Homo sapiens: one gene and its partners. The protein of the gene in region 3 purifies or fractionates together with the protein of the main gene of each other region. This does not show direct contact. Each region holds a gene or a part of one and is shown on either strand. Other genes may lie near its edges. The genes, in order: DLGAP5, ARID2, RGPD1 and CDCA2.

Region 1 (7,619 bases), on a different chromosome or scaffold from region 3:
GAGATGGGGTTTCACCAAGTTGGCCAGGCTACTAGTCCTGAACTCCTGACCTCAGGTGATCTGCAAGCCTCAGCCTCCCAAAGTGCTGGGATTACAGGTGGGAGCCACCGAACCCGGCAGGTTTTGTTTCTTTAAAAAAAAAAAAAAAAATTTAGGGCCAGACTCAGTGGCTCATGCCTGTAATTCCAGCCAGCACTTTGTGAGGCTGAGGCAGGCAGATCACTTGAGCCTAGGAGTTCCAGACCAGCCTGGGAAACATGGCGAAAACCAATCTCTACTTAAAAAAAAAAATACAAAAAAAAAAAAAAGTATTTAAAAGATAAATGAAAATCACCTAACATCAGTTTCCCTCCACTGTATTAAGGTTATAAATATTTTAGTTTTGGTTTTAAATGTCTAGATATTAGTACAAAATTCTTTATTTTTATTTTTTTTAAATACAAAATTCTTACGCTAGAAACAGACATAGTCCCAGCTCCTCAGGAGGCTGAGGTGGGAGGTCGGGAAGTCAAGGCTGCAGTGAGCCAAGAGCGAGACACTGCACTCCAGCCTGGGTGACAGAGTGAGACCCTGTCTCAAAAAACAGAAACAAAAACAAAAAATTTGAGTTGTTCATATTCAATGACACAACATGACGATTAATAAGGAGGCAGAGGGTCGGGCACGGTGGCTCTCGCCTGTAATACCAGCACTTTGGGAGGCTGAGGCAAGCGGATCACAAGGTCAGGAGTTCGAGACCAGCTTGACCAACATGGTGAAACCCCGTCTCTACTAAAAATATAAACATTAGCTGGGTGTGGTGGCACACGCCTGTAATCCTGGCTACTCAGGAGGCTGAGGCCTGAGAATTGCTTGAACCTGGGAGGCAGAGGTTGCAAAGAGCCAAGATCGCGCCATTGCACTCCGGCCTGGGCAACAGAGCGAGACTCCGTCTCAAAAAAAAAAAAAAAAAAAAAAAGAAGAGATAGCAGAAATGGTTTAGTTCTGACATTATCTAGTTAGGTAGATTGCTTAATATTTCAATAACTCAGTGGAATGACACAATGGATTAGCTACCTCTAAAATCCCTTATAATTCTAAAACCCAGTGCTCTAAAAAAGAAATTAAGCTGGACATAGTGGCTCATGCCTGTAATCCTAACAGTATGGGAGGCTGAGGCAAAAGGATCGCTTGAGCCTGTGAGTTCGAGACCAGCTTGGGCAATATCATAAGACCCCCGTCTCTACAAAAAAAAAAAAAAACAAAAAAAAAAACACACACACACCAAAATTAGCCACCCACTGGCAGGAGGATGGCTTGAGCTCAGGACAGAGAGGCTGCGGTGAGCTGAGATCACATCACTGTACTCCAGCCTGGGCAACAGAGTGCAACCATTTCAAAACAAAAGAAAAGAAAGAAATGAAGTCACTCTCAAAAAGTATATTTATAATAGAACAAATGAATAGTAAAACTATAATGAGATACTTACTTCTCATCTATTTGATTTGCAAACAGAATAGTGTGTATTGTATGATATTGTCTCTCTCTATAGATATATGTTGTCTCTCTCTCTCTCTCTATATATATATATACATGTTGCAGGAAGTCAGGGACCCCAAACGGAGGGACTGGCTGAAGCCATGGCAGAAGAACGTGGATTATGAAGATTTCATGGACATTTATTAGTTCCCCAAATTAATACTTTTGTAATATCTTATGCCTGTCTTTACTGCAATCTCTAAATATAAATTGTAAAGATTTCATGGACACTTATCACTTCCCCAGTCAATACCCTTGTGATTTCCTATGCCTGTCTTTACTTACTTTAATCTCTTAATCCTGTCAGCTGAGGAGGATGTATGTCACCTCAGGACCCTGTAATAACTGTATTAACTGCACAAATTGTACAGCATGTGTGTTTGAGCAATATGAAATGTGGGCACCTTGAAAAAACAGGATAACAGCGATTGTTCAGGGAATAAGAGAGATAACCTTAAACTCTGGCCGCCGGTGAGCCGGGCGGAACAGAGCCATATTTCTCTTCTTTCAAAAGCAAATGGGAGAAATATCACTGAATTCTTTTTCTCAGCAAGGAACATCCCTGAGAAAGAGAATGCGCACCTGGGGGTGGGTCTCTTAACTGGCCCCCTGGGCGTGGCCGTCTCTTACTGTCGAAACTGCAGGGGTGAAATAGACCCCAGTCTCCCATAGCGCTCCCAGGCTTATTAGGAAGAGGAAATTCCCGCCTAATAAATTTTGGTCAGACTGGTTGATCTCAAAACCCTGTCTCCTGATAAGATGTTATCAATGACAATGGTGCCCGAAACTTCATTTAGCAATTTTAATTTCGCCCTGGTCCCGTGATCTCACCCTGCCTCCACTTGCCTTGTGATATTCTATTACCTTGTAAAGTACTTGATGTCTGTGACCCACACCTATTCGCACACTCCCTCCCCTTTTGAAAATCCCTAATAAAAACTTGCTGGTTTTTGCAGCTTGTGGGGCATCACGGAACCTACCGACATGTGATGTCTCCCCCGGATGCCCAGCTTTAAAATTTCTTTTTGTACTCTGTCCCTTTACTTCTCAAGCTGGCCAATGCTTAAGGAAAACAGAAAAGAACCTACGTGAATATCAGGGCAGATTCCCCGATATATATATGTATATAGATATATATATATTTTGAGATGGAGTCTCACTCTGTTGCCAGGCTGGAGTGCAGTGGTGCAATCTTGGCTAACTGCAACCTCCGCCTCCCAGGTTCAAGCAATTCTCCTGCCTTAGCCTCATGAGTAGCTGGGACTACAGGCGTGCACCACCACGCCCGGATAATTTTTACAGTTTTAGTAGAGATGGGGTTTCACCATGTTAGACAGGATGGTCTCGATTTCTTGACCTTGTGATCCACCCACCTCGGCCTCCCAAAGTGCTGGGATTACAGGCGTGAGCCACCGCGCCCAGCCTATTGTCCATATTTTTTAAAAAAGAAAAAAATGTACATGTTATATTTGTCTACATATGCATGAACTATCCATGGAAGTATTCACAAGAAATGAGTAACACTTGCCTTCATGAAAGGTTCAAACTATGTGGTTGGGTCACAGTGCTGAGAAGAAGTCTTCTCACTTGTACCTTTTCCTACCCTTTGAATTAGGAACCACATGAATGTACTAGTTATCAAAAAAATAATTAAAATTTAAACGTGAAAATCACCTAACACCAGTTTTCCCCCACTATATTAAGGTTAAAAATTTTTAGTTTTGGTTTTAAATGTCTAGATATTAATACAAAATTCTTACACTAGAAACACACAGACATACCTGAAATATGGCACACCATGGTGGGGCTGAGCAATTCGACCTTCATTTCTTTCAAGTGATGGGACTTCTTTTATTGGAAGGCCATTTAAATTTTTAGTAGTAGCTTCATTTTTATTTAAAACATGTTCTATAAATTAAAGAAAATCTTACATATAAATTTCAAAGCAACAATTCCTAAAATGACAGCCCCTAAAAAGACATTTTAAAAATCCTTTTCAATGTTTAATTTTAAAATTTTATTTCTGCCTCAATCACTTCACATTTCCTCTAAAGTAGCTCTCAATATTTTTTCTTTAAATTTACATTTATTTCCCCTCTTCTGTCTGTATTCTTCATTCCAATATTCTCTTCAGATATCTTTACCCATGCTTTCCCGTCTTTTCTGACCCTGAGTTCACATCCCCAAATGATATGGTGAAAAAGAGCTCCAAACAAATCTGACAAGTAATAATCCAGAAAAGTAAAAATGTAATTACTATACCTGAAAGCAAAATATTTTTTGTATTAACATTATTCTAAAAAATGAATAAATTAATTAAATACTATACCTTCATGCCAAACAGTTAGAGGACCCAAAGGACATGGCAATTTATTTGAATCTTGCTGTATTGTCTTGGTAGAGTAAGTTTTACATTTTTGTGCCAAAATTTCTTTTGTTGCTTGAGACTCATCACTAAAAACAATAGCAAAAATATACTTCATGAAACATGAACTCCATATATCTAATATAAAGGGTTTCAAAATTGTGTCACTTGTAGATCTGGGCTAAAATAGAAATGTTTCTATTTTTTTAAAATGTGTATTCTGGAGGGGAGAAAATGTAAACACCTATAGTGTGAATGTCCATTTTTACTAATTAATTGTAATCAGATTCAAAGATTTTGAAGATTTCTTAATGGAACATAAACACTTAACAGTCTTAGATGCTGCTGAGCAGTTTTTAGTATATTTGCTGCCAGCCAGTCTTTGCAAAATGATCTTGCCTTTTCTTTTAAAGGTTCCAACTGATTTTTCCCTTGTTTTGCAAATTAATCATTTTTGTCTTCAGGGCCAGTTTTTCTAAATACTAAGCCAGAAGAAAATGAGGAAAAAGTCGTATCTGAGCTAAAGCAGTATAGCAATTTTCTTCTTTTGAAAAATGTATGTGTTATAATTAAGTCATTTATTAAAAACAAAAAACCCAAATTGTATAGTGAAAATAACAATGCATAGGAAATATAAAAACTGTCAATTACATTATTGTACCTTCTGAAGAATTTTTTTTAAAGAAAAAAATTGCATGATTCCTAATTAACACAGTTCACTAATAATAACTTTTTAAGAGCATAGACCAAATATAAGAAAGACATTTGGCCGGGCGCGGTGGCTCACGCCTGTAATCCCAGCACTTTGGGAGGCCGAGGCGGGCGGATCACGAGGTCAGGAGATCGAGACCATCCTGGCTAACATGGTGAAACCCCGTCTCTACTAAAGATACAAAAAATTAGCCGGGCGTGGTGACGGGCGCCTGTAGTCCCAGCTACTTGAGAGGCTGAGGCAGAAGAATGGCGTGAACCCGGGTGGCGGAGCTTACAGTGAGGGGAGATCACGCCACTGCACTCCAGCCTGGGCGACAGAGCGAACTCCGTCTGAAAAAAAAAAAAAAAAAAAAAAAAAAAAGAAAGGCATTTATTACCCATCTTAGCAAGAGACTTATTATTAAGATCATATTCTTACACTTCTGTTTTTAAAGGAGTCCAGGTGTAACTGGGTGTCAAAAAAGCATTGGCACTTCTGGGAGTCATAGGTGTTACTTGATAGGTCTTCAGACCATCCAGTGGCTGAAACATAAAATCCTTAGGTGCAAAGGAATTCTTCCCTTTTATTTTTGCAGTATTTATCTCAGGTAAGTTTTCCATTTTTGATAAGACTCCATCTGGATTCATTCCACTTGTTGCATTAGTTTGTGAATTCAAAGTATTTTCTTCACTATCGACTTTACAAGAAATACCCTAGGATGTGAGTTAACAAAGTAGAGTAAGATTTCTCTCTTCTGAGGATATATTCAACCAATTTTTATAGGTCTGAAAATATGACAACAGAAATATATGTTCTATGTACATAATTTGAGAGACAAAAACAGATACAATTAAGTGTATACATGGAATCAGAAGACCAGTTACGCTAAATCCATTGCTATTACCCGGGAATAGAATCTTTTTTTTTTTTTTGATACGGAGTAGCCCTCCGTCGCCCAGGCTGGAGTGCAGTCGCGCGATCTCGGCTCCCTGCAAGCTCCGCCTCCCGGGTTCACGCCATTCTCCTGCCTCAGCCTCCCAAGTAGCTGGGACTACAGACGCCCGCCACCACGCCCGGCTAATTTTTTGTATTTTTAGTGGAGACGGGGTTTCGCTGTGTTAGCCAGGATGGTCTCAATCTCCTGACCTCGTCATCCGCCCGCCTAGGCCTCCCAAAGTGCTGGGATTACAGGCGGGAGCCACCGCACCCACCCCGAACCAATTCTTATTTAAAGACTAACTAATACCTTTTGGGTATTACAACAAATTAAAAGATAATGGAAAATTAATATGGAAAAACTTATTCAACAAATACGTATCTTTTTACTTAAATTATGTTGATAATTACGGCCAGGCACGGTGGCTCATGCCTGTAATCCCAGCACTTTGGGAGGCTGAGGCGGGCGGATCACAAGGTCGGGAGATCGAGACCATCCTGGCTAACACAGCAAAACCCCGTCTTTGCTAAAAATACAAAAAATTATTGGGGCGTGGTGGCAGGCGCCTATAGTCCCAGCTACTTGGGAGGCTGAGGCAGGAGAATGGTGAGAAACCGGGAGGTGGAGCTTGCAGTGAGCCGAGATCGTGTCACTGCACTTCAGCCTGGGCGACAGAGCGAGACTCTGTCTCAAAAAAAAAATTATGTTGATAATTACAATGGTTTAAAATCAGAAATCTAACATTATGGAATGACTATCATTAAGGACCAAATTCTTAAGTTAAATAACCTTAGATTATAAATAACCTTAACACAAGAGCAATACTTTCAATGTGACACAAAAGATTAACCATATAAAATACAAAGCATATTTACTATTTCAAGTCAATTTGTTACTTGGTATTTAAATAATTTCTAGAGGTTTCCAGGTTTCTGATTTTTAATAAGATATGAACTCAAACCCAGGTATTTCAACCTGGACAAGAGTTTAAGTGGTAACACTGTTGAAGCCAGCATGGCAGTCAAAGCAAAAACTAGTGATAATCCTTAAGGGTTAATCTTAAGGGGGGACCTATAAGGTCCAGCTGCTTTATCTGTGAAGATTCACTGTGTGTTTCCTTTCTTGATCTGTGTTTGATTTTTTACTAAGAATCTAGCCAGGTTACTTAATCTTTGGTACTTTTTTTAAATTAAGAAATTATACTGGCCAGGCGTGGTGGCTCACGCCTGTAATCCCAGCACTTTGGGAGGCCGAAGTAGGTGGATCACCTGAGGTCGGGAGTTCAAGACCAGCCTGGCCAACATGGTGAAACCTCGTCTCTACTAAAAATACAAAAATCAGATGGGCGTGGTGGTGCACGTCTGTAATCCCAACTACTCGGGAGGCTGAGGCAGGAGAATCACTTGAACCCGGGGAGCGGAAGGTGCAGTGAGCCAAGATCGCGCCATTGCACTCGAGCCTGGGCGACAGAGTGAGACTCTGTCTCAAAAAATAAAATAAAAGAAAATAAACTATATCATAGATTATAGGCCAAGGGGTTGGGTCCTCAAATGGGGCATCTTTTTTGAAGACCTTATTAGAAACCATGCTAGATGCAGGCAGAAATTTTAGTTTATTTAATTCTTACAACTACTCTATGCAGGTATTCCATGTTAGGAATAAGAAAAGAAGCTCATAAACTACATAACTTGCCCAGGGTTATGCAACTAATTGGAAGCAGAGAGAGTATTCAAACCCAGGCCTAAATGAATCCAAAGTCAATGCATTTCACCCCACTTCACCCTATGTCTTGGCTAATTCCCACATACAGGTTTCTCTCAGCTGTGTTTTTATTATTTTTCTCCATCTTCTAACAAAATTATGCTTTCTCTACCTATAAAGCTCTGAAAATAAGATACCTGAAAAATAACAAGAGTAAATCCTCTTGATGCTTTCTTATGGTTCAGGAAGTTTTAACACACATGTAGGTTAACCTTTTGAAGCAGTTCTTTATGTTTAATTTCAACTTTATGAAAGTAGCAATGAGATTTTCAAAGCATCTAGAATTAAAAAGATGTTTATTCTCTACCTTGTCGGGTTTTGTTTCTACATTTTTGGCAGGTCTT
Region 2 (8,172 bases), on a different chromosome or scaffold from region 3:
ACTTCAAATTCTTAACCCAGATAAGACCAGCAAACTGTCCCCCAATTTCAACAACAAAACAGAACAAAAAATTAAAATCCACCAAGTAAATATGGAACACATTAGGCAAAGAGATACTTGGGCATAAATTTAACCATAAGTAATTTCCAAATATTATTGAACACGTCATGAACACAACATTTTGGTCCAATTAATGAAATGTTCCCTAAGCCATTTAATTTTTTTTTTTTTTGCACTTTAATATCTCCATCTACAAAATGTGGGAAACTATACCTTATCCTTTCATACTATAGGAATATCCTAATAATAAACATTGGTGGAACACATTGAGATGTACATGCCAAGAAAAGGAACTACATGAAAATAAAGTGCATAAACATCACAGATGATTAGTATCCAATTTTTAATTTATTTATTTTATTTTATTTTATTTTTTTGAGAAAGAGTCTCACTCTGTCGGCCAGACTAGAGTGCAGTAGCACGATCTCCGCTCACTGCAACCTCCGACTCCCGGGCTCAAGCAGTTCTCCTGCATCAGCCTCCCAAGTAGCTGGGATTACAGGCATGAGCCACCATGCCAGGCTAATTTTTCTATTTTTGGTAGACACGGGGTTTCACCATGTTGGCCAGGCTGGTCTCAAACTCCTGACCTCAGGTAATCCGTCTGCCTCGGCCTCCCAAAGTGCTGAGATTACAGGCGTGAGCCACCGCACCTGGCCTCCAATTTTTAAATAGACTGCTTTTACACATTATCTGTAAGCACTTTACTTTTTTTTAATTTTTAATTTTTGTGGGTACACAGTACGTGTATATATTTCTGGAGTAGGTGAGAAACTTTGATACAGGCAGGCACTTATATTTGTAAAAATTAAATGCCAATGTTAAAATAATCAATTGCATTTTCAATTTTAGACTCTAAGAAATTTTTGTAGACAAGCTATAACTGAATAAATGTATATTTGAGAAAATTAAGTTAATGTCTGGCAGACCATTAATACTCAAGTCTATATTTAATGACTGTCAATATTTGTATCAAAAATAACAAAACACTATTAAAATATACATGGCCAGCATACTAGCTTGCTCTTCCTAATTTAAATTATCTGTAATATTATGAAGATATATCATAAAACACTAGGCTAACAGCCATCCATCCAATTAATAGCAAACTTACAGGGGAATGTGAGCAAATATTAAACTTGTAAAGGAGGAATAACACATATAATGACAGTCTTACAATAGGTCAAATGAAAAAGCAGTTCATATTAAAAAATTATTCCACTTGTAATTTAAAAAACACACTGCATTATCTGCTCATCAGTAATGATGATATTCAATCTGACGTAGCAAAGAGGTAACTTATCAAGTCACTCGATTACTATTTCTTACTATGAAGAGCCAATCTTATGGGTAGGTAATAGAATTGCTGTTACTTGGCATCTTGTCTGCCAATTAAGATTTTTCAGAGGAAGGTGTAAAAGCTAGCATCATATATATCCTCTTACTGTGCAATATTAGACCACCAGGAAAAAATTCTTTCAAGGTTGGTAGTACCTAAGTTTTGACCAGCATATTTCTTTTGTATTTCTTTACAAGCCATGCAAATCTTCACATGGTTTTATTTTCCAAAACAAATGCTTCAACTTTTTTCCTAGTAGCCTAGCTACAACCCTGCAAAAACAAACCTAGAGAGTGACATATGGAGGAAAAACAAGTTTAACTAAGGACATAGTTCAAAAAGCAGCTTCTAATAAGAGCAAAAAGCCCAATTTGATCTGAAGACCATGTAAATACTTACAATGTTGAAACTATATAGTTAAAAACAGTACCTATAATTAATGATATCCTCCCAAGATAAAAATGACAACTGGAAAAACAATATTTATAATTAACTTTTGTTAAAAAAAATTGGAAGCCTAGATATTAATTTGATTATGCTAAAACTATTAGTATGAATGTAAACTCTTCAGAAAAATATACATCTCATGAATCATGTATATTCTATAGTACTTTCTGGTTATAAAACTTAAGTCAATCAATCTAACAAATATGAAGCAAAACTTCAAAAATATGTATTTCAAACAGTCCAAAATTCAAATGCTTTAAACTGATAAAAACATAAAACCAGAATATGTATTAACATGTTCCTCTCAATATCATAAATAGAAATGAGCAAATGAATGTCACGATGAATATAAAACTCTCTTGTTTCTCACCCCACTACTAACTCAACGGTTTTGGAGGTTAATTTTGCTTTTTGATTTAGCCCTTTAATTTAAAATGTACTCTGACACAAATGCCATCACACACACACAATAGATGACAACCATATTTAATATTTTCTAGACTTCCTGTGTAACTCAATAACTACTCCACAAAGTTCTGCGAACTCCAGCTTCAAGCCTGAAGTCAATCTAAGATAGCCAATAGAAAGTACACCTGTGCGATTACTGCATTTCCTATTTCAGAATGCTGAACGTAATACACAATAACTGAGTGCATCTGAAGCAATAATAAATGCAAAACTCAAATTATGCAGAAGCCACCTTACAAAAAAAGGCCTGTACTATCACTATTAAAAAGCAATAAATACAAAGAATATCATTTTAGTTTTTAATAACACCAACTAACTTAGGATCCTCTAAGATAAGCACTTTAAAAATAAAACACAGCATCATGATAAATTACAGTATGAAAGTATTCCTAGAAGAAAAACTAGAGGCAAAAAAAAAAACGCTAAATCACAAAATATATCATCTAGACTGTATCACATACCAACTGAATAAGAAATTAAACTTTGCCGAATAAGCAGTCAAAGAAGAAGAGGGAGAATGAAAGAAAATCCAGATTATAGTATCCCATTTCATAGTATCCCCATTTTCCTAAAGATATAATAATTTAAATTATCTAATTTAAATTACTAATTTAAGTCACTGGAAATTCAACAAAAAGTAATTATCAAAACAATCCTGGTCACCTAAGCCACCAACATGTTATGCCATGTAGGAATATTCTACTGAAAAACCTATTCAATGACACTGTTCCAAACAAGAAGTTTCATTAAAAAAAAAAAATTCTTAAAGCCAGAATTTTTAAAACTAAAGGAGTTTCCAAAACAAAGAAAAAAATTTTCCCAAAGGTTACAAAGTTTCATTAACTATCTTAAGTCTTTTACTAAGCATCACCTTTCTGCCCCTCAGTGGGTATCAAGCGATGAATAACAATGTCACAAAAGAATGTTTACCAAGATTGGGGCTGGGGTGTCACCTGTAATGATTTTGTATGAAAAATGTAAACGATCCTGAAATTGGTGAGGAAGACTTTCACCTTCCTACAATCTCACTTTATTTATATTAAATGTGTCTCAGTCTGAAATGAACAAGAGCTTAAGAACTGTTTGGTGTGCAAGGTTTGCTTTTGTTTTTGCTAAAAACAAATCTCTCCATAAGTCCCTTATTTCCAAATACTATGGAAAAGTCACTACTACTCACCGCAAGTAATACTGTTTTAAAGCAAAGGCAGCGTTAGAACAACTTCTGGGAAAGTTGAACTCTTCAACAATTTCTCCCCACTGATTCTTCTCAGAAACCTGGTAAAACACAGGCACAGTTGTCTGAACGTGAACAATCTAAGAAAATCTTAACCTAACTATGAAATAAATACCCATTCTACAGAGATCTGTAGATACCTAAGGCATCAGTGGGTGTTTCGGATCGATCGGTAAGAGTTACTAAGCAAGGGCTTCTTGAATCACTGTGTTTTCACCAGAGAGCCCTGTATTTAATACCACTTGTTTTGTTTGGGGGTGGGGGGGTTTGGTGGGTTTGTTTTGTTTTTGAAGCCCGGACAATAACCAATCGCAAGTCCCTCTGTCGCCCCCTTTTAAATCTCAACGCGGTCCGTTTACACTAAAAAAAAAAAAAAAAAAAAAAGTTCAAAAGGATCAATACAGTTCCGGACAGCGACGTCCGCGGGTTGGGGGGGGGGCCGGGGCTGGGGCCGATTCCGATCCCTCTCCCAGATCTATCCATCTCCATAGGCCCTTCTTTGAGGCCTACAGCTTCTGCCTAGCCTTGAAGCCTAAGATGGCTATTTGGAGACAGGTCCTGGTTTCTTTTGTTAGCTGTATAAACCGAGGGCGACGGGGCCGAGGCTGTGCCCCCGGCTGCCGGGATTATTTCGCAGCCGATTATCGATGTTAAACCTGCCCGCGCTAATTTTGAGTTGCACGAAAACTGCTCTCAGAGTCTGTGTGTCTCTGTGTGTCTCCGCCTGTGCTAGAGCGGCAGCGGCGGCAGAGCTGACTCGCGAGCGAGCGGGCGGGCGGCGCGGGAGCGGGGCGGGCGCGGGGCTCAGGCTGGCGCCCCGCACGCCCGCATTCCCCGCCGCGGCGCTCAGACCCCGCCGGCCCGACCGGGCACCGGGCAGGGCGCGAGCCGGCGCCGGGCCGCCCGCCCGCCGGAGCCCCGCGCCCGCCGCGCGCACGCGAGCCACCAGGCCAAAAACAGCCCCGCCGCCGTCCGCCTCCGTGCCACCGGCTGGGAGCGAAAAGAACGCCTTTTGCCCCCGCGGGCCACCCCCCCAGCCCCAAGCGCCCACTCCGGGGTCAAAGGAGACTTTTTGGAGGAGGCCAGCGAGAGGGAAATACAAATTAAAACTTCCACTCACCTTCGCGAATCCGCCTAAAGTAGTGACTCTGGTGTAGAGACCGTGAAGATCCAGCTCCTTCCCACCCACCGCAGGGATTTTTTTAAAAGGCGACCTGCGGGAGAGAAAAAGCCCCGCACTTGTCAGCCGGGACCCCGTGCCCGGCCCGGGCGGGAGAGCCCCGTTCGCCCCGGCTCGCCCCGGCGCTGCCCCCCCGGTTCTGCTCTCACCCTCTGCTGTGGTGGAACTGCCGCAGCTCGTCCAGGAAAGCGAGTCCCTTTCTCCGCTCGTCCGGAGGCGCCTTCCCCGTCGAGTTTGCCATTATTTTTTCAAAGGAGGTTTTTAAAAAACCCAGATCGGTGTTTTAAAAGCGCCCCCCGCTCCCAGCGCTTCCTACCAGAGCCCGGAGCCCATTCCTCGGCCGGCGGCGGCGGGGCTCAGTCATGGGCCGGCGGTGGCGGCGGCGGCGGCGGCGGCGGCGGCGGCGGCGGCGCAGGGAGGGAGGGAGGGAGGGGGAGGAGGAGGAGGAGGGGAAGGAGGGAGCAGGAGGCCAGGGGGAGAGGAGGGAAGGAGGGAGGGGAATTTCTAAAAAAGTTTAAAGAAATCGGAGCGAAACTAGAAGGGCAGGCGACTGCCGGATCCGCGCGAAGCCGCGGGGCGAGCGCGGCCCCCACCCCTTCCTTCCCTCCCTCCCCGTGGCCCGGCTCTCGCCCGCCTCTCAGCGCCGCCGGCTGAGGCAGCTCAGCCCGGGGACGCGATTCAACATGGTGCTGCTGCCGGGGGCGCGCGAGCGGGCGACGGGCAAGGCGAGCCGATGGTGAGGGGTCTGGGCGGCCAGAGGCCCAAGAGTTTCGGCGGCGGCGGCGGCGGGGCTAGGGCAGGCGGGGCTGGGGGTGGGGAGGGGGAGGTCTGTGTGGTGGTTTGTGGAAAGCGCGGTGACAGCGTGTATTTCGGCCCCGGCTCCGCGGGGCCCTCGCACACATTCACGCGCGGCCTCGGCCGCTGAGGCCGGGGCGTCCCCGGGCAGAAGCACCGGCGGCAGCTGAGCCGCTGCGCGCCGCCCGCCTGCTTCCCTCCCCGCCAGCCTCCCTCTCTGCCGCCGCCACGGCCTGGCAGCCAGTGCCACACAGCGACCCCCGAGGGCTGGCCGCGGCACTGCGCCTGGCTCCACACCGCCCCGGCAGATCCTCGCGGGGAACAATAGACTCGACTCGCCGGGCTTAGGGTTCGTCTGCAATGTGCCGCACATTTCACACGCACACAAAGCCGGCGGAAAGGGGGGCGGTGCGGGGAAACGGCCACTACCGGTTGTTCCAGGGTTAGGGGTGGAGGCGATGTTCGCGTCCCCGGCCCGGCTGTTGGAAGGGCCGCCTCGGAGTCCCCGCCCGCCCGACAGAACCGGTGTGGCGCTCTGAAGGGAAAGGAAGCTCACCGGGGTAGCCCCTCACGCTACGCAACATTCACAGATCGGAATAAAGTCAATTTGTTACCTTCTGTTTTTGTAAAATCTAAAGGAATCGGCTTTTATGAGCCGTATGCTAGTATTTTGGGGCCTGGTTAGCACATTTTCTATGAATTATCCACACGCTAACTTTAGCAAACTATACGTTAAATACAATGTGAACTGTCTGTCCTAGTTCTGTGGAAATAGAGTAATGCTCTTAATTCATCTTGCCGCTGGTTGGCTTCACATATCAAACTGGAGTATTCTATGAGCAAAGTTATGCAAACTAACTAAACTGGTTGGGAAGCAATCTATCGAACTTCGACAATAATAATTAAGGTTTACATTTTTATAGTAAGGTCTCTTCAAGATTGCTGCGTTTAAAATAAATACCGAATAAAACGTTTTTCCTTGCTTTCAAATGTCTTAAATGTAATCCTCGTTTAAAATATTTTGAAGGTTAAAAAAACCCTTTGCTTAAATGAGTCAAAACATCTCAACAAATACTACCACCTAAATTTGCATTTACGAGGGGTGTTGGAGCCGGCTCTTTGCTACAAATGTTAATTAAGATTACAGTACGTGAAACGTATTATTATTCCCATTTTAGTGACGGCCACCACGGGCAAAGTCACTGCCTAACCCAAGGTCACAGGGTAGTAGGGGTCTGGATGGGTTATTTCAGGTAGTCGTTCCAATGGGAACATTGCTTTGGAGGTGAAAAATTATGTAATATAGTGCAGCTTGCTTCCGGTGCTCACTCTAGGAAACGGACTTATTTCCCAACTAAAGTTTGTCTCTTAAGTGGGGTCGGAATAAGGTTGTGGCTAGGAAGATCCTGACAACCCAGGGCCAGTGAGTGTCTCGGAAGCCTGTGAGGGGCGGAGACCCGGCCCGGGGAGGTGGAGAAGCTCGCCGGCCGCGGAAGACTAGGGGTGAGGCTGCTGCGAGGAAGACCCGGTCAGCTGTCCCTTCCCCCATCGGTCCTCTTAGGGGAAGTGGAGATGTGGGCCTCGGAGCTGCGTGGCCCGGGCTGTGCGGATTCCCTAAACGCCGCACTTGCGCACAGCCCCTTACGTAACCGTCAGTGCCGGGGATTCCCTGGAGGGGGTCATTCTATTCAACCATTATACACACCCCGGGCTCCTGCCGCCGCGCCGCCGCCGCCTCACAAAATGGCGGCGCCCATAGAGGAGACCGCGGCCGCCTCCCCGGCCCCATTTTGTGGGAGGCGAGAGATCTGTCAACATGGAAAACCTCTGCTGAGGATGCATCCGAGTTTGGAAACCCCACTTAAGGGATGGAGCCTGGGGGATCACATTAAACGGAAAATGCCAACGACTTCTACCACCTCTACGCGTTTTTAGTTTTTCATTTTCTCGAAGGAAGCGCCAGAAGCCTGTGGAGTAATTGTAACTAGAGGGAGAACGGAAAGCTGAGGTGACTGCTCCGGGGACTTGGCGCGGCGCCTTGGTGGCTTTGGTTGCTCTTCCACGCTCCCGGCAGCTGACCAGAATCTCTTGGAGGGTCTCCTGGGCCACCTCGGCCGCGCCAGTCGTGCAGTGAGACTTCTGTAGTTTTAAAATGCCACAGTCCACGGCCCGGTCGGCACCGCTCGCCTGAATCGTGGGCTTTGGGAACCTTGGAGGCTGCTGCTCCAGGAACTCGCGGTCGGCCGGGAGCCGGGGAGCTTCGTTGCTGGGAGCGGGCGGTATTCGCGGACTCCGGCGGCCCTGGCGGGTCGCGGCCGGGATCCGAGCCGGGGATGACGATGCTGATGGAGCTGATGGGGCAAGAGTGGGAACGGAGGCACGTACACTGAAATTTAAGTCATCCAAGTTGGGACTTAAGATAGCAGGTTAATATTGTCTCAGGCGAGACTTAGAACGTCTTTTCTGGTATCCCAGTCTGCAGTGGGCAAATCTATTGTCTTTATTTCTCATTTAAGGGCAGAATGGAGGGATGACATATTTTTACTTTTCAAGAGGCGGTTGCCACTTTTAAGTCACTGTTGTGTGTGTGTGTGTACATACACAAACATACGATAGTGTGTTTTCAGAGCAAGTATCAAAGGCTAAAGA
Region 3 (8,184 bases):
GTTGCTGAGTTTAAGTAACCAAGTAGTAACACAACATACAAGCAAACCAAAAAATAAAGCAATTATTCAGTCCAGGAAAAACAAAACTGCACAACAAGGGCAATTCAAATGCAAAATATTTACCTTATATTTATATAAATGTTAAATATTCATTTAAACAAAAACTCCAATAACAGTACTGAAACAATGAGGGGCAAAGCAAAGTGTCTGAGGACAGTTTTGGAGGAGCATAATAGCCAGTACAGAATGTCTAAAGTGGGGCCGGGCGCGGTGGCTCACGCCTGTAATCCCGGCACTTTGGGAGGCTGAGGCGGGCGGATCATGAGGTCAGGAGATCGAGACTATCCTGGCTAACACGGTGAAACCCCGTCTCTACTAAAAATACTAAAAAATTAGCCGGGTGTTGTGGCGGGTGCCCGTAGTCCCAGCTACAGGCTGGGGCAGGAGAATGGCGTGAACCCCGGAGGCAGAGTTTGCAGTGAGCCGAGATCGCGACACTGCACTCCAGCCTAGGCCATAGAGCGAGACTCTGTCTCAAAAAAAAAAAAGAAAACAAAATGTCTAAAATGGGAGAAAGGGAATTCAAAATAACAAAAGTATATGTGTGTGTTACTCAGAAGCATGAAGTATAGATGTAAAGGGCAGAAAAAACAACTAACAGCTGTCAAAGGTGCCTGCCTGTAGTCCTAAGTACTCAGGCAACAGAGGTAGGAGGATCATTTATGCCCAAAAATTTGATGGCAGCCTGGACAACACAGCAAGACCCTATTCTAAAAAACAAATAAATAAAAATAAGAGCTGTCAAGTAGAGTTTGAGAAGTAGGAATCAGCTGCAGAATAAGAAACCAACTTGACAGAACATAGAAAAACTAAACAGAAGCCATCTGGAAAAAGAAAAACTAGAGAAAGAATTATATATTTTTTTATTTTTTTATTTTTTGGAGACAGAGTCTCGCTCTGTCACACAGGCTGGAGTGCAGTGGCGCAATCTCTGCTCACCACAACCTCTGCCTCCAGGGTTCAAGCAATTCTCCTGTCTCAGCCTACCGAGTAGGTGGGACTACAGGCGCTGCCACCACGCCCGGCTCATTTTTGTATTTTTAATAGAGACGGATTTTCACCATGTTGGTCAGGCTGGTCTCTCTGCCTCCCAAAGTGCTTGGATTACAGACGAAGAATATTTTTAAGAAGGGCAAAAGCACATGTGAGGGAGTACAAAAATGGCAAAACAAGAGAAGACTAACAAATGAAAGCACAATGGAAGACTAGAAAGATATGATATACAGACGCATCATCACACTCCAAAACTCAGACATTCTAGAAAGCATGGGCAGTTCACAGATGGCCAGTCTCTGCCAAACTGGGGGAGAATATTAACCTCTTTATATTCTTCACAGCCACTGCCTCTTCTCCCTCCATTCCTTACCTTCTATCCAAAGCACCCTGTTTTGTCATTTCACTCAAACCTAACTTTACAGAATAGCTTCACATGTTCCAAAGTTACTCACTAGTTAATCCATATTCCGCTGAAATCCCCAGGTTCTAATGTAAATGACTTTAAATTTGGGGGAAAAAAAAAAGACTCTAAGTGTAAGAGAGGTGGTCATAATAACCAATCCTCAAAATGTTGCTACCACTCCACTTTATTTAATGGAGACGTTATGTAGTTGAAAGAACATTCTAACTTCTGTCTAGACCAGTGGTTTTTAATCTTTTGGAAGCCAAGATCCCCACTAAGAATCTCAGAAAGGCTCTAAACATGCTTTTTTTTTTTTTAAGCTTGTTTAAAAAAAAAAAAATCAGGCTGAGCAGAGTGGCTCACACCTGTAATCTCAGCACTTGTGGCCAAGGCGAGAGGATCACTTGAGCCCAGGAGTTGGAGACCAGCCTGGGTAACATGGTAAGACCCCGTCTCTACATTAAAGAAAAAAGCCGGGCATGGTGGCGCATGCCTGTAGCTGGCATGCCTGTAGTCTCAGCTACCCAGGAGGCTAAGGTGGGAGGATGGATTGAGCCCAGGACGTCAACGCTGCAGTGAGCCACGATCCTGCCACAGCACTCCAGCCTGGGAGACAGAAAGAGACCTTGTCTCAAAAATAAAATAATGGCCAGTGCAGTGGCTCACGCCTATAATCCCAACACTTTGGGAAGTGGAGGCGGGGAAATCACTTGAGCCCAGGAGTTCAAGAACAGCCTGGGCAACATGGTGAAACCCAGTCTCTACCAAAAATAAAAACAAAACAGAACAAAACAGCAGGTGTGGTGGGTACACCTGTGGTCCCAACTACTCGGGAGACTGAGGTGGGAGGATCGCTTGAGCTGGGGAGGCGGAAGTTGCAGTGAGTCGAGATAGCGCCACTGCATCCAGCTGGGTGACAGAGTGAGACCCCACCTAAAAAAAAAAAAATAACACAAAAATTAAAGTCTTTAATTTCAGGAGTTACAGGAACCCTCAATTAAGGTCTGTTTTAGACTCTATCATCACATTCATATTTATACTATGCTAGCAGTTTGAAATTACAATGTACAAGTAGATATCTATCCTTCTTCTCTGGAGGAATAGACTGTAACTTACTCCACTGTTCCCAAGAGAAACTAAATCAGACCCACTGCCAAAATTCTGCTGCACTACCTATTTCACCCTGAACAAGTATCTTAAATCTCTACAGGTCTCAATATCCACAGGGTTGCTGGAAGCGCAAAATAAGATAACGTATGCTTAGTTATGATAAGAGACACAATTATGCTACTATTATAATCATGGTCATCCGTTGAGTTTCCGTTTTTTGGTTTTTTTTTGTTTTTTTTTGGAGTCTCCCTCTGTCGCCCAGGCTGGAGTGCAGTAGCGCGACCTCGGCTCACTGGAACCTCCACCTCCCGGGTTCAAGCGACTCTCCTGCCTCAGCCTCCCGGGTAGCTGGGACTACAGGTGTGCACCACCACGCCCGGCTAACTTTTTTTCTATTTTTAGTAGAGACGAGGTCTCGACATGTTAGCCAGGTTGGTCTCCAACTCCTGACCTCAGGCAATCCGCCCTCCTCGGCCTCCCAAAGTGGTGGGATTACAGGCGTGAGCCACTGCGCCCCGCCAATATCCTTTTAACATCAACAATAAAAACAGTGACTTGTAGCTAACACTTAGTGCTATGTGTCAAGCAATACCCTAAATGTTTAAAATGGATCATCCTATCAAATTCTATTAATGTTACAACTCCATCTATGGATGAAAAGTGTAACTGGCCCCAAATACCCAGCTTATAAACGACAGTGCTGTGATTATTCAAGCCAAAGCAAACTGACTCAAGATTCTGTGCACATCCACCTTTAATAGCTTCTTCCGTCACTCTTTAGATCCAATTACTAAAGTCTTATTGAATCCAAAATAGATCACATTATTTACCTGTAAAGAGGAAAAATACCCTAAAAACATTTGTGGAAAAGGTTAAAAATTGTAAGCCATACTAACGATTTGTAAGAACTTTAGAATTTTTTTTTTTTTAAGCAAAGGCAGCTACCAAAGTGTTCTGGGCGGGGTGGGGGGGGGGCGAGGGAGGTGAGTATGAGTGGAGTTGGACCCTTATAAAGGGACAGCGACAAACACCTCATACTCAAAACAAGGGGACTTCCCCTGTCATTTGCGCCGTCGGGCCACTGCAAATGTCCGTGCTGAGATGCCTACGTTGTCACTCGACACAGCCGCCAAAGCTCACCCGGAGCTGCGTCAGTCCCCACTGGGTTCCTCCAGGCCAAGGAGGTACGACCTCCGCCGCAGCATATAAAGTAAATGTCCAGGACATGGGAAGAAACCCGCCGATACAGCACCCGGGTGCCCAAGCCCCCGAGAACTAGGCCGCGCGGGTACTATGGGGCCAGAAAGCCCGGGCCAGGGCGGGCCCACGAGCGAGCACCGTCGGGAACAAACCGGGAGAAAGAGGAAGATCCGGCGCCAAAGGTATCCCGCCCACCGCGGTCCCCCCAGGACTCTTCCTGCGCTTGCAAGCGCCACGCCGCCCACAGGACTGCGCCAGCCGGCCGGCGCCTCAACAGAGCGCGCCAGGGAGCAGCGCCCGTCAGGAGCCATGACGCCTGAGCCATCGAGGCCGCCGCCGGGCCACGTCGAGGCCACCGCCGCCCGGCCAGGTCGAGGCCGCCGCCGCCGCCCGGCCAGGTCGAGGCCGGCGCCTCAACAGAGCGCGCCAGGGAGCAGCGCCCGTCGGGAGCCATGACGCCTGAGCCATCGAGGCCGCCGCCGGGCCACGTCGAGGCCGCCGCCGCCGCCCGGCCAGGTCGAGGCCGCCGCCGCCGCCCGGCCAGGTCGAGGCCGCCGCCGCCGCCCGGCCAGGTCGAGGCCGGCGCCTCAACAGAGCGCGCCAGGGAGCAGCGCCCGTCGGGAGCCATGACGCCTGAGCCATCGAGGCCGCCGCCCGGCCAGGTCGAGGCCGCCGCCCGGCCAGGTCGAGGCCGCCGCCCGGCCAGGTCGAGGCCGTCGGTCTCTTCGAGATCCACTCACCTTTCCAGGCGACGGGGCGGAGCCCTGCACCGAGGCGACGTACCGCTCCCCGTAGGCCTTGCTGCGCCTCATCGCACCGCCAACCTGGCTCCCGAGACGCGTGAAACCAGCGCTCAGCCCCGCAGCAGTCGCCAATTCCAACAGGAAAGCGCCTGAAAGCCACTGACGTAGCCGGCGGAGGACCACTGTGACGCACTTGTGTACTGCGTCAGCACTGTGTATCCTTGGCGACGTCGGCGCTCGAGCTGCACTCGGCCGGGCTCTTGGCAGCACCCTGTGCTCTGAGGGTGTCTTGCCCGCCGGGCGCCGTGGCTCACGCCTGTAATCCCAACACTTTGGGAGGCCGAGGCGGGCGGATCACCTGAGGTCATGAGTTGGAGACCAGCCTGGCCAACATGGCGAAAACCCATCTCTACTAAAAATACAAAAAATTACCCGGGCGTGGAGGTGGGCCCCTGTAATCCCAGCTACTCGGGAGGCTGAGGCACGAGAATCGCTTGAAACTGAGAGGCGAGGGTTGCAGTGAGCTGAGATCGCGCCACTGCACTCAAGCCTGGGCGAGAGTAAGACTTCCTAAAAAAAAAAAACAAAGCGCATTCTCAAATCCCGCAGTCAGTCCTGCGGGTGGAACACTTAGAGGAAAAGTCAGACCTCTCTATATGCAGGCCCCTCCAATACTGTATTTTCTGTCAGCTTATAAGTGGACCCAGGCAGTTCAAACCCATGTTATTCAAGGGTCAACTGTGTATATAGGAACAGCCATTCGCCTGGCACAGTGGCTCAAGCCGGTAGCCCCAGCACTTTGGGAGGTCGAGGCGGGAGGATCCCAAGAGTTCCAGGTTACAATGAACTGTGATAGCGCCACTGCATTCCATCCTGGGCACCAGAGTGAGACACTTGTCTCAAAAAAAAAAAAAAGGAAAAGGAATAGCCCCCCAAATCTATATATATTTCACTAGCAGAATAACAGAACATACCAAAATTTAACAGTAATAATGTAAAGATTTTCAGCCGTCTGTATTTTCCAAATCTTCAAAAATGTCTATTTTGGGAATTTGGATATTAAAATCTTACTTTTAAAACAAAATTTAACAAAACATTTTTAATAGTGAGAGCCTTTTAGATTTTAAAAGCTCACATTTGTGTAAACATTACAGTCTTAATTATGTGGACAAATATCAAATGCGTTGATATTTTTAACTGGAAATTTGGGCTATTTTGGTTGTGGATAATTTTTTATCCTTTTTGTTTTTCCATATTTTCTAAATTTTGATATAATGAACAAGTATTGCCTTTCTAAAAAAGGAAAAACAGCATTTTGTTTTATTTCAACCATATTGGATGTGAATAAAAGAAAAGAAAAAGATGATTCTGAGCTTACCAGTGTGTGTGGCCCACATTAACAGAAATGACATGTAAAGAAAATCTAGTTTGGAGTGGAAAATCCTATTTTAGGTAGTTGATTTCTTTCACTTGAGGTACCATTTATCTATCCATGTGGGGATAGCCTAGTAGGAAGATGAAATGGTAGGACAGAGATCTTGATGGAAGCCAGTAGTTGTGGCACAGTTCTGAGGCCCAGCTACTCCAAAGGCAGAGGGGGGAACATCCCTTTAGCCCAGGAGTTGGAGACTGCAATGAGTTATGTTCATGCCTTTGCACTCCAGCCTCTGGAAGAGAATGAGATTCCTATCTCTAAAATGAAAAGAGGGCCAGGCACGATGGCTCACGCCTGTAATCCCAGCACACTGGGAGGCCCAGATGGGTGGATTGCTTGAGGCCAGGAGTTCAAGACCAGCCTGGCCAACATGGTGAAACCCTATCTCTACTAAAAATGCAAAAATTAACTGGGTATGGTGGTGCACGCCTGTAATCCCAGCTTCTTTGGATGGCTGAGGCACCAGAATTGCTTGAACGTGGGAGGTGGAGGTTGCAGTGAGCTGGGATCGTGCCAGTGCACTCCAGCCTGGGTGACAGAGCAGACTCTGTCTCAAATAATAAGAATAATAATATTTAATTAATTTAAAAATAAAAACCAAAAGAGAAGATCTGATGAACTTAGAAGTCATATATCTCAGGTGATAGGTGAAACCACAAGTTTGCCTTGAAAAGTGTGTTGATGACAATAGCCATACCTAACAAGTACTTGCTGTGTTCCAAAGCTCTTTTTGTTAGCACTTCATTTGTATTAACTAATATCATTCTTCCACCAACTTTGTAAGGGTACTGTTATTATCCTCAGTTTTTACAGATAAGGAAAGCAAAAGACAGCCAGGTACCATGGCTCATGCCTGTAATCCAAAACTTTGGGAGGCTGAGGTGGGAGGATCACTTGAGCCCAGTAGTTCAAGACCATCCTGGGCAACATAGCAACACCCTGTGCTTACAAAAAAAGAGAAATTAAAAACTAGCCAGGCATGGTGGTACATGCCAGTAGTCCCAGCTATTTGGGAGACTGAAGCAGGAGGATCTCTTGAGGCTAGGTGTTGGAGGCTGCAGTGAGCTATGTTCACTCCACTGCACTCCAGCTTAGGTGACAGAGAAAGACCCTGTCTCAAAAAAAAAAAAAAAAAAAAAAGGAAACCAAGAGAATGAGCACTGAAGCAACTTGCCCAAACACACTCACCTAGTAAAAATGGTATCATTAATTCATTTATGCTGAATATGTTGAAAAGGAGTGCCCAAAGAGAGAACCTTCTTTTCTTTCTTTCTTTCTTTTTTTTTTTTTTTGAGACGGAGTTTCACTCTGTGGTCCAGGCTGGACTCCAGTGGCGCAATCTCGGCTCATTGCAACCTCTGCCTCCCAGGTTCAAGCAATTCTTGTGCCTCAGCCTCCCGAGTAGCTGGGATTACAGGTACGTGCCATCACACCCGGCTAATTGTTGTATTTTTAGTAGAGACGGGGTTTCACCATGTTGGACAGGCTGGTCTTGAACTCCTGGCCTCCAGTGATCCATCTTCCTCAGCCTCCCAAAGTGCTCGGATACAGGTGCCCGGCATCCACCGTGCCCAGCATCCAAAGAGAGAATCTTCTTGAGGAACTCAAAAGACTTTTCTCTTTTGGATAAGCAGTTCATATTTCTGCATTTATTACGGATTTTCACATTTTACTTCATTTCACACTACTTTTTTTTTGTTCAGTGGTATAACATTTTCACCATGGCACTGAAAATTCCATTTGCATTAATGTCCAATGTCATATATTCCTACCATGTTGCAAATACAGTTCATTTGTCCAGCTTTACTGAGGTATAATTCACAAATAAAAATTGTATACCTTTACTAGGTACAACATGATGTTTTGCTATCCAAGCATACCTCATTTTATTGCACTACATTTTATTGTACTTCACAGATACTATGTTTTTGACAAATTGAAAGTTTATGCCCACTCTGTGTCAAACAAATCTTTCTGCATCATTTTTCTTTTTTGAGAGAGTCTCACACTGCCGCCCAGGCTGGAGTACAGTGGCACGATCTCAGCTCACTGCAACCTCCTGTGGCAGGCCAGGTCTCACTAATGCAGACTTCCATAACAACTGTTTCAGTAATGACTGAATGAAGTTAAATACTAAAAGCCAGTGCCCTTATACAAAGGCTGGGATGTAACAAAAGGCCATCAAAACTTTTGCCTAGGCCTGTCCTGGGCCTTAAAGCATGACAAAATAATGAAGG
Region 4 (7,619 bases), on a different chromosome or scaffold from region 3:
CTCCAGCCTGGGCAAGAGAGTAAGAAACTGCCTTAAAAAAAAAAAAAGAAAAACAAAGCACATACAGCTGTTTAATCCAAAAACAACATCTTGTGAGGCTTATAATGAAGTAAGTGTGTATCTGTAAAGGATCATAAAAGCCATGGCTGGAAAGGAGAGGAAATTGATCTGTAGAGTTTGTAGTTTCTGTATTTTATGTGAAATTGTATAATATCAACTAACCAGACTATGAAAGATTACAGAGCAATAATCAGGAATAGAAAACATATGATAAAATGACAGATGTGAATAAAACCATGTTAAGTAATTACCTAAAAAGTTAATAGGCGAAATATTCCAATTACAATAAATTATCAGAATGGATTAATAAAACACAAGATCCAATTATATGCCCATAAGAGTTTTAAAGACCCAAGTAGAAAAAAAGTCAATCTAAACCCTTGCTAGTAATGTTCACCCAGTACAAGCATACTGATTTTGAGAAAGAATAATTTTTACATCCTGGTAAGACTCTTTTTACATGCTTAAAAACAAATAAAAATATTACAAGTAGTGTTCCTATAACAAAGAATACTTGTTAATATGTTCATAGGTGCTACCTCTTTATACTAAATTCCATGAGCTTGAAAATACTTCACTAATTCTTATTGATCGTAGCTTAAAAAAGAGAGTATCTCTCATATAACAAGAATTCAGAAGCATTTCTACTAGGCCATGAGCTCCTAAAAAGTAGGAAACAATTTCAGTTCCCCCAAATTTTAGCAAATAGGTACACTAATCATAAATGTCTATGAATCGGGCAACTGGCCATGTACTAAGAAAAGATTACTTACCATTTGAAGTCTCTGTGAGCTCTGAAAGGGGAAGAGACTCTTCAACTAAAAATCCAGACTGTGTTGAACCAAGTTTAGATGATATCTTGGGGAAAAATTGAAAGAGTATTACATTTTATTAATTAGAGTACTACTAATGCCTTTTTGAAGATTTGAGTAAACATTATGGATTGCCTGGAAATCTGATGTTCAATCAGTCACCTTCATTATCTCATAAAGTGTACAGGAGATACTTTATCCTGAGAAAAGTGTACACTTTATCTCATAAAGTGTATCTCAAAGTGTACAGGAATCTAACATGAACTATTCATATTAACTGCATCCTAAACATCCCACAAATCAACTTTTAATTCCCCAGGAAAAGTTTAAAGGATATATTTTTGTTGTTATAGCCTAGATAGCTGTATCATCTGTAATTCTTTAGAGAAAATTCTCAAAATAAAGTTTATATAATTATTAATCAAACGCCAAACGATATCAATAACTAGGATATGAAAAACATTAAAGGCTAGGATAGAAAACACATTCACACTAATTCAGAAATAATATCTGAATCATGATGTATGTTCAAACAATTAATCAAAGTTCTGATAACAAACAATTATTCTTGCTTCTGTCCAGTGGGGATTTCACATCAACCTGAAAAGGGCGGAGGCAGCCGAGATTACAGGCGACTGAAATACAAAGGAAACCCACTGGAGCCTGAAGAATGTCTAATAACTATCAAATCTTTGTTCTGCCAGTCCACATAAAACGAATAGGACGAGCACTGGATCTAAGTGACAGAGAAAGTGCAGAAAGGGTTCCAACTGTAACGGTGTTAGGTGTCTCCTCTCACAAAGGCCATGAGGAGCTACTGTGTCAAACCAGAACTAGAAGCATGAAGTAAGAAAAGTCCGTCACGAGAGACCAGCTCTCCATTCACGCGTGCGCGCAGGTCAACTGATCTTCAGTAGTATTATTTTTCTAATATCGCCTTTTGATCGTCTTGACAGGGTTTAGGTAGTTATAAGCCACAAAAATCCCTAGAGCTACTTGAAAGAAGTGAGCAAAGGAGAAATTGCTGAATGGCACCCTGATTTCCATCAGAAGGAAAGCAGTCAGGGGCAGGTATAAGTGCAAGACTCCCAAGCCTGTGGAGTACACCCCACACAGAATCTCCACCTGATCCACCAGCTCCACTGAAGCCATCTGCTTATACCCTGCTCCCCAGTAGAAAAAATACTGCCTAAGGGCAAGACTGTAACTTCCTCCCTTCTTGGAGCATCACCCTCTAGAATACCTCATACGTAGAAGACCCCAGGGCTTACTCTCTTTGTAAGGTTAGTAGTCAAAAGTGAGATCATTATCCAAACTGTTTCTAATAAGTGATAAATACCAGCAACCATAAAATTAACAGGTAGGAAACACACACACACACACGCACACACACACACACACACACACACCCCAGGAACCACAGGGCAGAACAAGGTACTAAAATTGAAGAACGGCACTGACAGCCTTAAAACTGCCTATGCAGAAAACCAACAACTTCATTTTCCTATGCGTAAAGTAAGTGAATTACCTCAGAAAGATCTACAGAAGTTTCAACTGCACATGCTCTGTCTGTATCAATATTGAATATCTGGAGACCAATTACTTTTCCTTCAGCATCCGTCAGATTTTCATCAGAGTCTCTCTGATAGGATATTCTCCGACGTTTGGAGGACAACACTGCAGGGAACCCAGACTGCTGGCAAGCGCTGAGACCTTCCTTTCTGGCTATAAACACAAAATAAAAACAAAACGACACAGGCATAAATGTTTTCATATATATTATATATATTTTTTTTCTTTTCTTTTTTTTTTTTTTTTTTTTTGAGACGGAGTTTCACTCTTGTCGCCCAGGCTTGAGTACAATGGTGCGATTTCAGCTCACTGCAACCTCCACCTTCTGGGCTCAAGTGATACTCCTGCCTCAGCCTCTCAAATAGCTGAGATTACAGGCTCATGCCACCATGCCTGGCTAATCTTCGTATATTTAGTAGAGATGGGGTTTCACCACGTTGGTCAGGCTGGTCTGAACTCCTGACCTCAGGTGATCCACCCACCTCAGCCTCCCAAAGTGCTGGGATTACAGGCATGAGCCACCACGCCCGGCTATTGTGCATCGTAATTTTAGTAAAATCTAGTGCTTAAGTCTAAATTATCAATGAAAAGAAAAATCTACCACACTTTTTTATTCCAAAAAAAATTAAATCTAACTGAAAGGAATGAAAACATGTCTATTGAAAAGATAATACATTCATATTATTAGAATTAAGTTTTTTCAGGCCTTAAAAGGTACAAAGATATACTAAAATACTTTTGCATGTCTAATATGGTACCTCACGCTTTTTAAATGATGACACCTGTTATTTTGAAAGATGTGGTTATGCTCTAATACTCTGTATGACTTTATGAAAAAGACAACCACAACGTACCTGTTTTTTTCTAGCTAAAAAAAAGGAACTGTCTGCAGAATTATAATGATGTAAATAAATTTTAAAACCCAGGAAAAAACTGAAACAATAAGTGAGTCACAAACTACAAATATAAATCGGTACATCTGAATGGGTCACGCACTCTAGAGGTAGATGAGGGGGACTTGTCTTGGGCTAACAGAGCAATCCTCATGGGAGGTGCTGAAATGCACTTAAAGATGGTTCAAGAATTCAAAACAGAATCATTTGAAACCTTAGTGTGTAAAGTACCAGAGAATGGTTATAATGATTACAGTAAGACCAAGATTTTGTCACATTCTGGTATCTGAAATGCTTCGTGATTGGGGGGGAAAAAAAAAAGACTGAAAAAACAACCAAATGAATTACAATCTAAGAGTTAAAGAATATAGCAGATTATCAGATTGGATATATTTGTGTGTGTGTGTGTGTTTTTTTTTTTTTTTTTTTTTTTTTGAAAGGGACTCTCACTTCTTCGCCCAGGCTGGAGTGCAATAGCACGATCTGGGATCACTGCAACCTCCACCTCCCAGGTTCAAGTGATTCTCCTGCCTCAGCCTCCCCAGTAGCTGGAGTTACAGGCATGTGTCACCACGCCTGGCTAATTTTGTATTTTTAGTAGAGACAGGGTTTCACCATGTTGGCCAGGCTGGTCTTGAACTCCTGACCTCAAGTGATCCTCCCGTCTCAGCCTCCCAAAGTGCTGGAATTACAGGCATGAGCCACCGCGCCTGGCTGAATATATTTGTTTTTAACATCAGGGTTGGGTGTTTGGTACTCATATAAAATTTATATGAATTTATTTCATTTACTAAATGCTTGCCGAGCTTAATAATAATCCTGTAAAAATCAAGATTTGTAAACTCAAATTTGCCACAAGCTCTATGGTAAAGGTGAAATGAGCTAATTATCTCTGGCATTTTAAAACTTAAAATTTAATTGCAACCATGCGGAAATGTAGGATTAGGAATGCCTGATAACAGGTTTTTTTTTCTAAGAGAAACCAGAAATCCTTATTTTTGTGTGAAATGTCCCAAATTTTTAATGTTAGTCTCACTTTATAAATATACCTGTGTTCTGAAAAGATTGGCTTCACACTAAATCATTTCATAACTCAGAAGCTTGTCTTTATAAATATTGAAGTCAAAACTGAACGAATTATTTCTACTCACTCAAGTCTGTCATCTCGGACTCTTTTCCTGCCTCTGAGAATTCCAGACAGCCGGTCATTTTCTCGTTTTCCTTTATGGAGTGAAAAGCTGACTGGAAGGCTGATATTCGTTCTCTTAAAGTGTTAACATTTCGATACAGTGCAGGGCTGCCCTGTGAAAGTGCAAAATATACAAGGAGTATTATAATCAATTCATACTTTCTATATTCTAGGCCTACAGCCATTGAATCCAAAATTAAATACAGTACACATATGCTTTTTGAAGATCAGCGGTAAGGAGTTAGTGTGGCAGAGCTTCTTCACCCTGGAATTACCCATTTTCAGTTTGAATAAGGAAGTTTAACACAAAAATGTTGAGAGGCCAGCCTAAGATTATATGGAAGGTGCCAAAAAAACATTGCGCTCTGGGATGGTGCAACAAAAAAGGGACAGGAGGAACCTGTCTATTTGCAATTTTTACCAAATGTTGTGCTGGATGTATCCATAGGAAGCCATCTGCATGGTGCTTGTGTCACAGGTAAGTCTCAGCATACCTCCTTCAGTCCAAGCTGTTTCTACTCAGCACGGGTCTACACATGCCCTCCAGCCCAGGGGCCAGAACGAGACACAGAAGTTCCATACATGCTCAGATACTACACTTGCACTGCTCTCCTTTTTGGCTCTTCCCAGCTAATTTTCCTGATTGTATGGGACCTGGAGGATATTTCCTTCTTAGGGTTGAAAGCCAGCCATTCTCTTAAAATACAAAGTTTGATGGTATAAGCACAGAAGCTCTCTGGAAACCCCGTTAACAGGGTTCCAACCAAAGACTGATAAAATGAAATTTATATTAGCAGGGATAGAAGTGCCAGTTAAAGACAAGTAATATAAAAATTGAGAGTTCCCTTTACATAAAAATTAAATTACAAATGAAGTTCTCTATCTAGATTTTTTTTTATTACTTGGACTACTAACATTTCCACTGATATGAAGTTTGTGGCAATGTTTAAAAATTATACCAATGGGCAAAAAGTGAAGTAAAAATTACCTCCGTTTAAGATATCATACAGAGTAGGCTGGGCACAGTGGCTCATGCATGTAATCCCAGCATTTTGGGAGGCCAAGGTGGGAGGATCACTTGAGGTCAGGAGTTTGAGACCAGCCTGGCTAACATGGTGAAACCATGTCTCTACGAAAAACACAAAAATTAACCAGGCGTGGTGGTGCATGCCTGTAATCCCAGCTATGTGGGAGGCTGAGGTGGGAGAATCGCTTGAACCTGGGAGGTAGAGGTTGCAATGGGCCGAGATCATGCCACTGTACTTCAGGCTGCGTAACAGAGCAAGGCTTGGTCTCAGAAAAAATATATATATATCACAGGGAGAAAAAGCAGTTCATATCGTGAAGCCATGTTTGATGGTGATCTGTTCACACATTTGATTCTCTTCCCAGTTAAATATAAAGCAAATTCTCTATTACATAATGAGAACATTTTACATTGAAATATCCTTGATGACACAAACGTTCACGACATAAACAGCAATAATATTCAAAAAAGGCTTATGTCAATTCATCTAACAGAACGACAGGGAAAAGATGATCTCAAATTCATACAATTTACTTTGAATGTGCTTTTTTTGCACACATATTTGAACATGGTAGGGGCAGATTTAATATCCTAGGAACATGCAGCACTTTGAAATGCTGCTTAAAAAAATTTTAAGTTTCTCTAGTCAAAATTGTTTTTTCTCTATTTTCTACTGGAGAAGGAGAACAATGTTTACATACAAAGCAAATGAAACATTCAAAATGTACTGCTTTTTTGATGTTTTTGTTTTAGGAATTGTGTCGGTCAGTCAACAACCTTCCTTCCATGCACCACAAACTGTTTGAGGGGCTCAGGATCTAGGGAAAATTACTTTATTTTTATTTGAGACAAGGTCTTGCTCTATCAGCCAGGCTGGAGTGCAGTGGCACAATCACAGCTCACTGCAGCCTCGATATCTTGGGCTCAAACGATCCTCCAACTTCAGCCTCTCAAATAGCTTGGACTACAGGCATGTGCCACCACACCCAGATAATTTTTAAAATTTTTCTGTAGAGATGGAGTTTTGTCATGTTGCCCAGGCTGGTCTCAAACTCCTGGCTTCGAACGATCCTCCCTCCTTTGCTTCTCAAAGTTCTGGGATTACAGTGTGAGCCACCATACCCAGCCAGGGAAATTACCGTTTAGAGTGAAATTCTGAAAACATATAAACGTAGTTACAGGTAAAAGAGGTGCTATTGAGAAGAAATATCAGGAATGTGGCTGAGTCCCTAAAAGTGCTGGCTTAGCTAGAATCAGGACAGACCTCTATCTTTAGTAAAATCTGAGTTGAAGCCAAAACAATGAGAAAGAGGTCTAAGGGAAGATGTCACAGGAGGGAGGTACTCTCCAAGAACAAGGGCCAAGGCCTTGAGTGGAAACAGGATGGGGCAGAAAAGCCAGTGTGCCCTGTGAGTGGAAGGAGATGGGGAGAGACTAGAGTGGGCGTACGAAGGCATCAGGAAGGGGTGTAGGTTTAATTCAAGGGATCGCAGGAAGCCATGGGAAGATTCTGAGCAGCCGGGTGAATGATTCGATTTCTACTTTAAATGAATGCCTCTCCTTGACTGCTCTGTGGGATAGCCAATGGATTAGGGAGAACGTAGGAGGCTGCTGCCAGCACAACACACGTACAACATTAAGGTCCTTTTTTTTTTTAATCAGTAGAAGGAGTACACTTTAAATTCATGATACAAAGTCTATAGTAAATGTATAAACCAGGAACAGTCATTCATTATGACTATCAAGTATTATGTATTGTAGGTAACCTTTTGTGCTAGATTTTAATACAAGTGGCAGCACCGTAGAACTGTTTGCACCAGCCTCACCACAAATGCATGAGCAATGCATTGTTTTATGATGTTATATGAGCTACATCACCAGGCCTTAGAAATTTTTCGGCTCCATTATTATGAGACCACCATTGTATATTTAGTCCATCACTGAACAAAATGTCATTATGTAGCACAAGACTGTATCTGACTTTTTAGGGGGATGTATAAAAATTTGAAAAAACAGCTAAATATATCCCCATCAGCAGATAAATAATCTACTCCTCTCCACAAGGT

Evidence for each region.
Region 1: the proteins of RGPD1 (region 3) and DLGAP5 purify together in Homo sapiens (affinity purification with mass spectrometry; one large-scale study listed by BioGRID and IntAct). This does not show direct contact.
Region 2: the proteins of RGPD1 (region 3) and ARID2 purify together in Homo sapiens (affinity purification with mass spectrometry; one large-scale study listed by BioGRID and IntAct). This does not show direct contact.
Region 4: the proteins of RGPD1 (region 3) and CDCA2 purify together in Homo sapiens (affinity purification with mass spectrometry; one large-scale study listed by BioGRID and IntAct). This does not show direct contact.

The regions. Positions count from the first base shown.
Region 1 is NC_000014.9:55,172,047-55,179,665, forward strand, and holds part of DLGAP5 (disks large-associated protein 5), read right to left. Parts: coding exon 7,583-7,619; intron 5,291-7,582; coding exon 5,016-5,290; intron 3,973-5,015; coding exon 3,848-3,972; intron 3,427-3,847; coding exon 3,300-3,426; intron 1-3,299. UniProt on the Homo sapiens protein: Potential cell cycle regulator that may play a role in carcinogenesis of cancer cells. Mitotic phosphoprotein regulated by the ubiquitin-proteasome pathway.
Region 2 is NC_000012.12:45,726,634-45,734,805, reverse strand, and holds the start of ARID2 (AT-rich interactive domain-containing protein 2), read right to left. Parts: upstream 5,101-8,172; 5' UTR 4,970-5,100; coding exon 4,878-4,969; intron 4,763-4,877; coding exon 4,669-4,762; intron 3,590-4,668; coding exon 3,492-3,589; intron 1-3,491. UniProt on the Homo sapiens protein: Involved in transcriptional activation and repression of select genes by chromatin remodeling (alteration of DNA-nucleosome topology). Required for the stability of the SWI/SNF chromatin remodeling complex SWI/SNF-B (PBAF).
Region 3 is NC_000002.12:86,938,634-86,946,817, reverse strand, and holds the start of RGPD1 (RANBP2-like and GRIP domain-containing protein 1), read right to left. Parts: upstream 4,701-8,184; 5' UTR 4,582-4,700; coding exon 4,510-4,581; intron 1-4,509.
Region 4 is NC_000008.11:25,463,195-25,470,813, reverse strand, and holds part of CDCA2 (cell division cycle-associated protein 2), read right to left. Parts: intron 4,640-7,619; coding exon 4,489-4,639; intron 2,598-4,488; coding exon 2,401-2,597; intron 919-2,400; coding exon 834-918; intron 1-833. UniProt on the Homo sapiens protein: Regulator of chromosome structure during mitosis required for condensin-depleted chromosomes to retain their compact architecture through anaphase.